2 linked regions of the Homo sapiens genome follow. The protein of the gene in region 2 purifies or fractionates together with the protein of the main gene of each other region. This does not show direct contact. Each region holds a gene or a part of one and is shown on either strand. Other genes may lie near its edges.

Evidence for each region. Proteins that work in one complex are often made in the same cells at the same time.
Region 1: the proteins of MTR (region 2) and DNASE2B purify together in Homo sapiens (co-immunoprecipitation; one large-scale study listed by IntAct). This does not show direct contact.

The regions. Positions count from the first base shown.
Region 1 is NC_000001.11:84,404,984-84,408,483, reverse strand, and holds part of DNASE2B (deoxyribonuclease-2-beta isoform 1 precursor), read right to left. Parts: intron 215-3,500; exon of another isoform or gene 48-214; coding exon 1-47. UniProt on the Homo sapiens protein: Hydrolyzes DNA under acidic conditions. Does not require divalent cations for activity. Participates in the degradation of nuclear DNA during lens cell differentiation.
Region 2 is NC_000001.11:236,798,292-236,801,791, forward strand, and holds part of MTR (methionine synthase), read left to right. Parts: intron 1-3,500. UniProt on the Homo sapiens protein: Catalyzes the transfer of a methyl group from methylcob(III)alamin (MeCbl) to homocysteine, yielding enzyme-bound cob(I)alamin and methionine in the cytosol. MeCbl is an active form of cobalamin (vitamin B12) used as a cofactor for methionine biosynthesis.

The DNA.
Region 1 (3,500 bases), about 150 Mb from region 2:
GGTTTAGGGACTCCATCATTGTATATTAGATAGGCTGTGTTGTTACTCTGCAGGAATATATTAGGGTTATAATGGCGTAAATCTTCCACTTACAAACGCCCACAACATTTCTACCAGCTACCCAGCCTGCAATACATTGCTTTCATTAATACACATGAGAAGTCATCTATTCCCCTAATAGGCAGCTTCCCCATCAATATGAAGCCTGTGACATGAAAGACAGGGGAAAGAAAGTCCATTTTTAACTGTGCATGATTTTTACTCATGTGACAGGAGCCCTGTGCATTGTGATCTGTGTGTGAGGGCAATGTTCCTATTTCTCTTGGTTGTTTTGGAACCAAGTTTCTGATTAAGCAACCAGTGTATAATAAAGGAGTACTGAATTATTTGTTCAGGAAATGAAGTAGGAACAACCAACCAAGGATTACATCTGAGGTTTTTTCCATTGATATTATAGGCACAGTGCAGAACTGGCTGTCAGGATCTGATTTTCTCTGCACACTTTGTGCTTCACTTCACTGCTGGGTAGTAGCGTTGTGTTTAATCAGGATCCCTCATTATCTGCTCTCCCTTCCTCCCATTATGAGAGGATTTTTCTGCAATCCATTTTTCAGTGTCACTTCACCTTTCCAACTTGATATTTTCCTGCTTAAAAAAAGTGGTGAAATTTACTGTGTGATATTGGATTTCCTCTGGTAAGGCCAAATATGAGTCAATTTTCAAACAGCCAAATCTTAGAGCCAAAATAAAGCTATTATTTCGATAGTATCTATTTTTCATGTTTTAGAAACTTGCTAATATTTGTTCTAGGTGGTTCCATTTAATTTGTGTGATGATACAACTTTAATTGAAGCCAATAATGTCAATATTAAAAAAATCTGAGTGACATAATTAAAAGCAGGAAAGGATAACCTATGTCCTTAAAAAAGGCCCTTGCTTTTTTCTTAGAAAACAAATTCAATGAAGAAGCCTCTCACAGTTGCTTAATTATATGATGTGATAAAATTTTTTTTTCAATGCACAACATAGTCTGTTGGAGCATTCTTGTCTACTGTGCTTAGGAATGCCCCGAAAAGTAAGCTGTTTTCTTACCTTCATTTTCCATAATTGATCATAGCTACTGAATGGCATTCATATCATCATTTGGAGAACTCTGAAGAGTTAGTTACTCTGTGAACCTGCATTGAATGTGGTAAGGAGGCCATTTGTGTGCCTTTGGGGTACAACATGGAGGAATTCTGGGATGATCCAGTGAGGAATTTATTTTTTATGATAAATGAAGTTTATTGTTCTAACTGAGTGTAACTGCCAGCTGAGGTTAAGTGGATTGTAGCCTTAGTTGGAAGAGAGGCTATTGATAAAGGGAAAAGATCATGGACTTAAGAGTAGGTAGATGTAGGCATGTGCCTTTGAATAGCTTTATTCCTTTAACACATATGTTCAGTATTGTTTTGACTATTGAGTGTTGAACAAGAGGGGTACAGTCTCTGCCCCCTGTCTAGCAGAAAATATAGTCACACAAGTGCAGGCAATATAGTTTGATAAATGTTTATGAAGGTACACGGAAGATTCTTATTTGTAAAGGCAAGAGAAGGGAAACAATTCCAAATGTAACCCAGCTATTGGCCTTGGTCACCTTCACATTTGAGATTTAAACCAGTTGGTCTAATCTTGCATTTCACTCTCTGTCAGAGGTTCAATTCCAGGTCAGGGGGTGGAGGAGTAATATTCTCACAGTCACTTCTGGCACATAATTCCAGCTTCCAAAGAACACTGAGTCATACCTGGATATCACCAACTGCTGTTGCTCTCTTCTTTTGGCTCTATGCCAATCAGGCATGGAAATCAGTCCCTTTCCTGTCATTTTCCCCCCAGAACCAATCACTCAAGACATTGCATGTGGCAGGTTTTACTAAAGGTAAGAAATATTGAATGGTTTTACATCACCATAAGGCCTTACCCCAGTCTTTCTCCATGTTTCTTATGCTTTTTAATCCCTGGCTTCTTTCTGTCCCTTTTTTGTTTAGCAGAGCAGTTTAACTGTGTCTCCCTGCTAGGGTGTGGGGCTACCTTTGCACCTTCAAAGATCATTATTGTATTCCGGCAAGTGAAGGCCTATCTACTCCAACTAAGGCAAATGATAGAGGCTTTACAATGTTGCTCTTTCCTTCTTCCTCCCCTAGCAGTCTCGTTGATGTGGAAAGGAACAATGTAGGCATTATTTTCCCACTAATAGATATGCTTCTGGTCCCCATCCCCAACCTGGAAAGCAGAAGCAGCTGCAGGCGTTTTCATTTTATATAATACGGTTGGCCCTTGGGTTTGAACTGCATGGGTCTATATGTATGCAGGCCTTTAAAAACATATGTTGGAAAATTTAGGGGGAGATTTTTGACAATTTGAAAAAAAAAACTCACAGATGAACCACATAGCCTAGAAATATTTTTAAAAATTAAGAAAAAGTTAGATACATTATGAATGCATACAATATATGTAGATACTAGTCTATTTTTTCATTTGCTGCCCTAAACTATGCACAAATCTATTATAAAAAGTTAAAATTCATCAAAATTTACATATACAAACATAGACCAAACATGGTGCCATTCACAGTCAAGAAATATAAACAAACATAAATATGCAGTACTAAGTCATAACTGCATTAAATTAACTGTAGTAATACTGTACTACTGTAATAATTTTATAGCCACCTTTTGTCACCATTGAGGTGAGCTCAAGTCTTGTGAATATCTGCTGAAAATGCCACATGACACTAACAACCTCCACGTGAGCAGTTCTCTCCAGTAAATTGCATACTGTAGTCAAAAGTGATCTCTCACAGCTCTTGCATATTTTTCATCATGTTTGGGGCAATATCAGAAACCTTGAATAAAACCGTAGGACCTATACTGAGTGCCACTGCTGATGCTGGAAATGCTTCTAACAAGCAAAGACAAGTCATGACATTATAAGAAGATGTTGAATTGCTTGATATGTACTGCGGATTGAGGTCTGCAGCTTCAGTTGCCTGCCATTTCAAGTTAAGTGAATCCAGCATAAGAGCCATTGTGAAAAAAGAAAAGGAAATTTGTGAAGCCCTCACTGCAGCTATGCCAGTAGGCATGAAAACCTTGCACTTTTTACAAAATACTTTTATAGCTCATACTTAAAATTAAAATGCAGCTTTTATATGGGTGCAAGATTGCTATAAGAAAGGAATACTATAGACTCTAATATGATTGGAGAAAAAGTGAAGTCACTATATGACAAAGCAGAAGGAAGGTAGATCATCTAAAGCTGGAGAATTTAATACCAGCAAAGGATGGTTTGACAATTTTAGAAAGAGGTTTGGCCTAAAAAAAAAAAAATTAAGATAACAGGAGAAGCAGCTTTTGCTGACCAAGAGGCAGCAGATGAATTCCCAGATGCCATCAAGAAAATCATTGAGGGGAAATAATTTCTTCCTGAGCAGGTTTTTAATGCAGATGAAAATTCCTTAT
Region 2 (3,500 bases):
ACATGCACATATTAGGAATTTATTTGTTTAGGCCTTCATCTTGTCATTCTTTAGGCTAGTTCTTAAAGGTGGTACTAGCTGGTCTACCCCCCTCCAAATCTGACTAGGGCTTTAACCACTTATACCTATGTTTATTCTTTGGAACACTTGCTGTGAATCAGAATATTGTTAGCTAGAAAATAAGATGTTAAGGGCACGGAAAAAAACCCCACAAAATATATTGGCTAAATCCACTCAAAACTGGAGAAAATACTGTGTGATCTCTTAGGCTCACTAGCCAAGGATGTTCCTTGGGACTCTCCTCTGCACTGCGGTTATTTACATATATACATTAAACATAAAAATATTTCTGAAATAGTGTTATAACTAGTCAGCTAAGTAAAGGAACTGCAAAACTATATTCTTATATTTACTGTGAAAGATAATCAGAAAGAATCTGCTTTATTTAGAACTTGACTAGTCAGTAGTTAAGTATACAGAATGTTCTAGACCTAATGAACTGAATACAGATAAATACAATTTTGTTGTTCTTCATGGAAGAGTGACATTTCAGTAGATCCCCACTCTGCCAGGGGAAGGAATTGTCAAGGTGACTTATTCTTTTGAGCAAGTTCTGATAGTAATTGGAAACTGGTGAATTAGAATGGTAATTAAAGCCCAGTGAAAAATGACCTCCTACTGGAAAAACTGGAGGAATACAGAAGGCTAAAAATAGTGAACACTTAATACCAACAGATTTTCTGAAGGAAGACTTCTTAGTTTCTCTAAATGGGAAATCTTACATTATCCTCTAAAGGAAAAATAAGCAAGTAGTTGAGGAAACTATGTTTTTTTTTTTCCCCCTTTTTCTTGAGACAGTCTCACTCTGTTGCCCAAGCTGAGGGCAGTGGCGTGATCACGGTTCACTGCAGCCTCGACTTCCCAGGCTCAAGCAGTTTTCTTGCCTCAGCCTTACTAGTAGCTGGGACTACAGGTGCATACTACCAGGCTTGGCTAATTTTTGTTTTTTTTTTTTGTAGAGATGAGGCCACTGTGTTGCCCAGGCTGTTTTCGAACTCGTGGACTCAGTGATCCACCTACTTTGGTCTCCCAAAGTGTTGGGATTACAAGTGTGAACCACCACACCCAGCCCAAGTAATGGATTTTTAAGGGCCTCAGTTGCATAGGAGTTTTTTATTCAGGCTGCAAAATTCCTGTGTTTTATTATATATTCCTTTTTATCTGTATTTTCTATTCACAATTCTCTTGTTTCCATAGACCGCCTTTTTCACATATATCCATATATTTATACATTTTGTTGTAAACTCTAGTCTATAGGTATTTTTAATTCACATTGTATATTACATTCTGGAATGTACAAGGAACTAACACAAATCAATAAGAAAACAAATTAGCTTTAGACATTGAAGAATCTCCCCCAACCCATCGTCTATTATTTTTGTCTATGGTGACTTTCGTTTAACAGAAATCCTTGGTTTTTATGTAATCAAATTCATTGTGTTTTTTTTTTTTAAATTAAGAGGTTGGTCTTTTTGAGTCTTAAGAAGTTCCTTTTCATTCGAAGTCATAAAGTTCTTCCCAATAAATTATACAATAAGTTTGTCAGGTTTCTGAAAAACCAAAGCAGATGTTTTTAAACAGCTTTTGATCTCTTGCCTATACGGTGGCTCAACAAACAAGATGCCAGAATTTGCATGTGTGGGGCTGGGTTGTTTTGTGGTAAATAGTGAACTGTCTTAAAGTCCAAAAACAAAGCTTATTATTTCTGGATTGAAAAGGGAATACAGTAAGGGCCCCATGGAAAAGTACTAAGACTTTTTATGAAAATGAGGGGTGGAGGCACTCTGAGTGGTTAGATTTGCTCAACTTGTGTGCACTCGCTCAGTGGAGGAGATAGGAAGAAGGACATGTAAATAATAGGATATTGATTGATATTGATTAATCATTTTGCCGATGCCAAAGGACATACTTCACTGTCTGTGGAAAAGATTGCCTTTTTCTCCCTAGGAAGTTTGAATACCTTTTAAATATGAAATTTCATGTGCATGACCTATTTCCCCACTGCCACACCTCATGCTCACACTAGGCTTATGATTCAGTCACCCACTTAAGTTCACGTGATGTCATTTCAGGGAGAATTGCAGCTACATCCTTTTGAGAAGAAAGCGATTCAGCTGGGCATGTAGGTTAGAGTCTTTAGTTCTTAGTCTTCTCATTCCTCCTGTGAAATTATCTACATTTAACAGCTTTCACTGAGTATTTTCTTCTTTCACTCGACTGTTAGAAGACATTTCCCAACCTGCAAATATGCCATTCCTGCCCCAACATGACCAACTGAGAGCTTCAGGCTTTACATGATTTTTCACAGCCCACTGAGCTTTGTAATATATAGAACACAATCTTTAGAGCTTCAGTCCTTGCTGTGCTATAATACCAACATAATAAGAGTAGCTAATATTTATCAGATGTTTACTATACATCAAACACCAATGTCTCATTTCATGACTTGTGTGACTTAAGAGGTCCAGTTCTTAACACATGGTCTCATTTTAGTATCACAGTTCTGATGATGAAGGCAGGGCTGATGTTTCCTCATCTTGCTGAAGCATGGAGAGGACTTGTCTAAAATCCCATAGCTACTAAGGGGAGCTGGGGCTAAAACCCAGATTTCTTGGGTTTTCACACCCTGCTACTATTAGCTTAAGCCTATCAAATTCTGAGTGCTTATTGGCTGATAGGATAGTCACATCATGGAGTGCCTAAATTAACACTACATGTGAATTTACCGTGTCGACTATAGCTTGAAATGGCGCCCACTGCCTGATGCCTACCAGTCTTTCTATTATACATGCTTCATTAAGCCCTACCTTTTCTCCACATTTCCCAAGAAGTGATTTTCTTTGGTTCTTGAAGTACTTTTGTACAGATCATTGGAGCTTAACTTCGTTCCTTTATCAGGAAGTGTTTTATCTCACCTGCAAGTTCAGTAAACACAATTAGCAAGTGAGGTGGCTTTGGAAAGGAATAGTACACCCTGAAAGAAACATAGTGCCCAGAAACTAGATATTGGATATTGCAAATTTTTCTTTTAGGTTACTAGAGCCACCTTCCTGAAGCCCACTTGGAGAAAGTCACTCAAAATAGTTCTGTGACCACCATTTAGCCCCAGTTCTCATATTGTATACTTGAGACTCTGGACAGTAAGACGAGGCAGGGTTGTAAGTTTGCACCCAATACCAGCTTACAAATATTCTTACATTACTGGTTTGGGTTTTAAATTATCTTTGCCTCTTCTTTCTCATCTTCCCTCACTTTTTTGTCATTTCAATTAAAGAAATATTTGCCAAGTACTGACCTTAGTGTTGCTAGGCATGAGTTCCAAGGAGCTCAGATAGCTTAGAACCAGCCCCATTTGACTTGAGCTTTTCTCGCCTCTTAGCACAGAAGGAATGGGTTGGCGTCATTATGGTTTGTTTTGAGTAACATGTATTCAGTCTGAT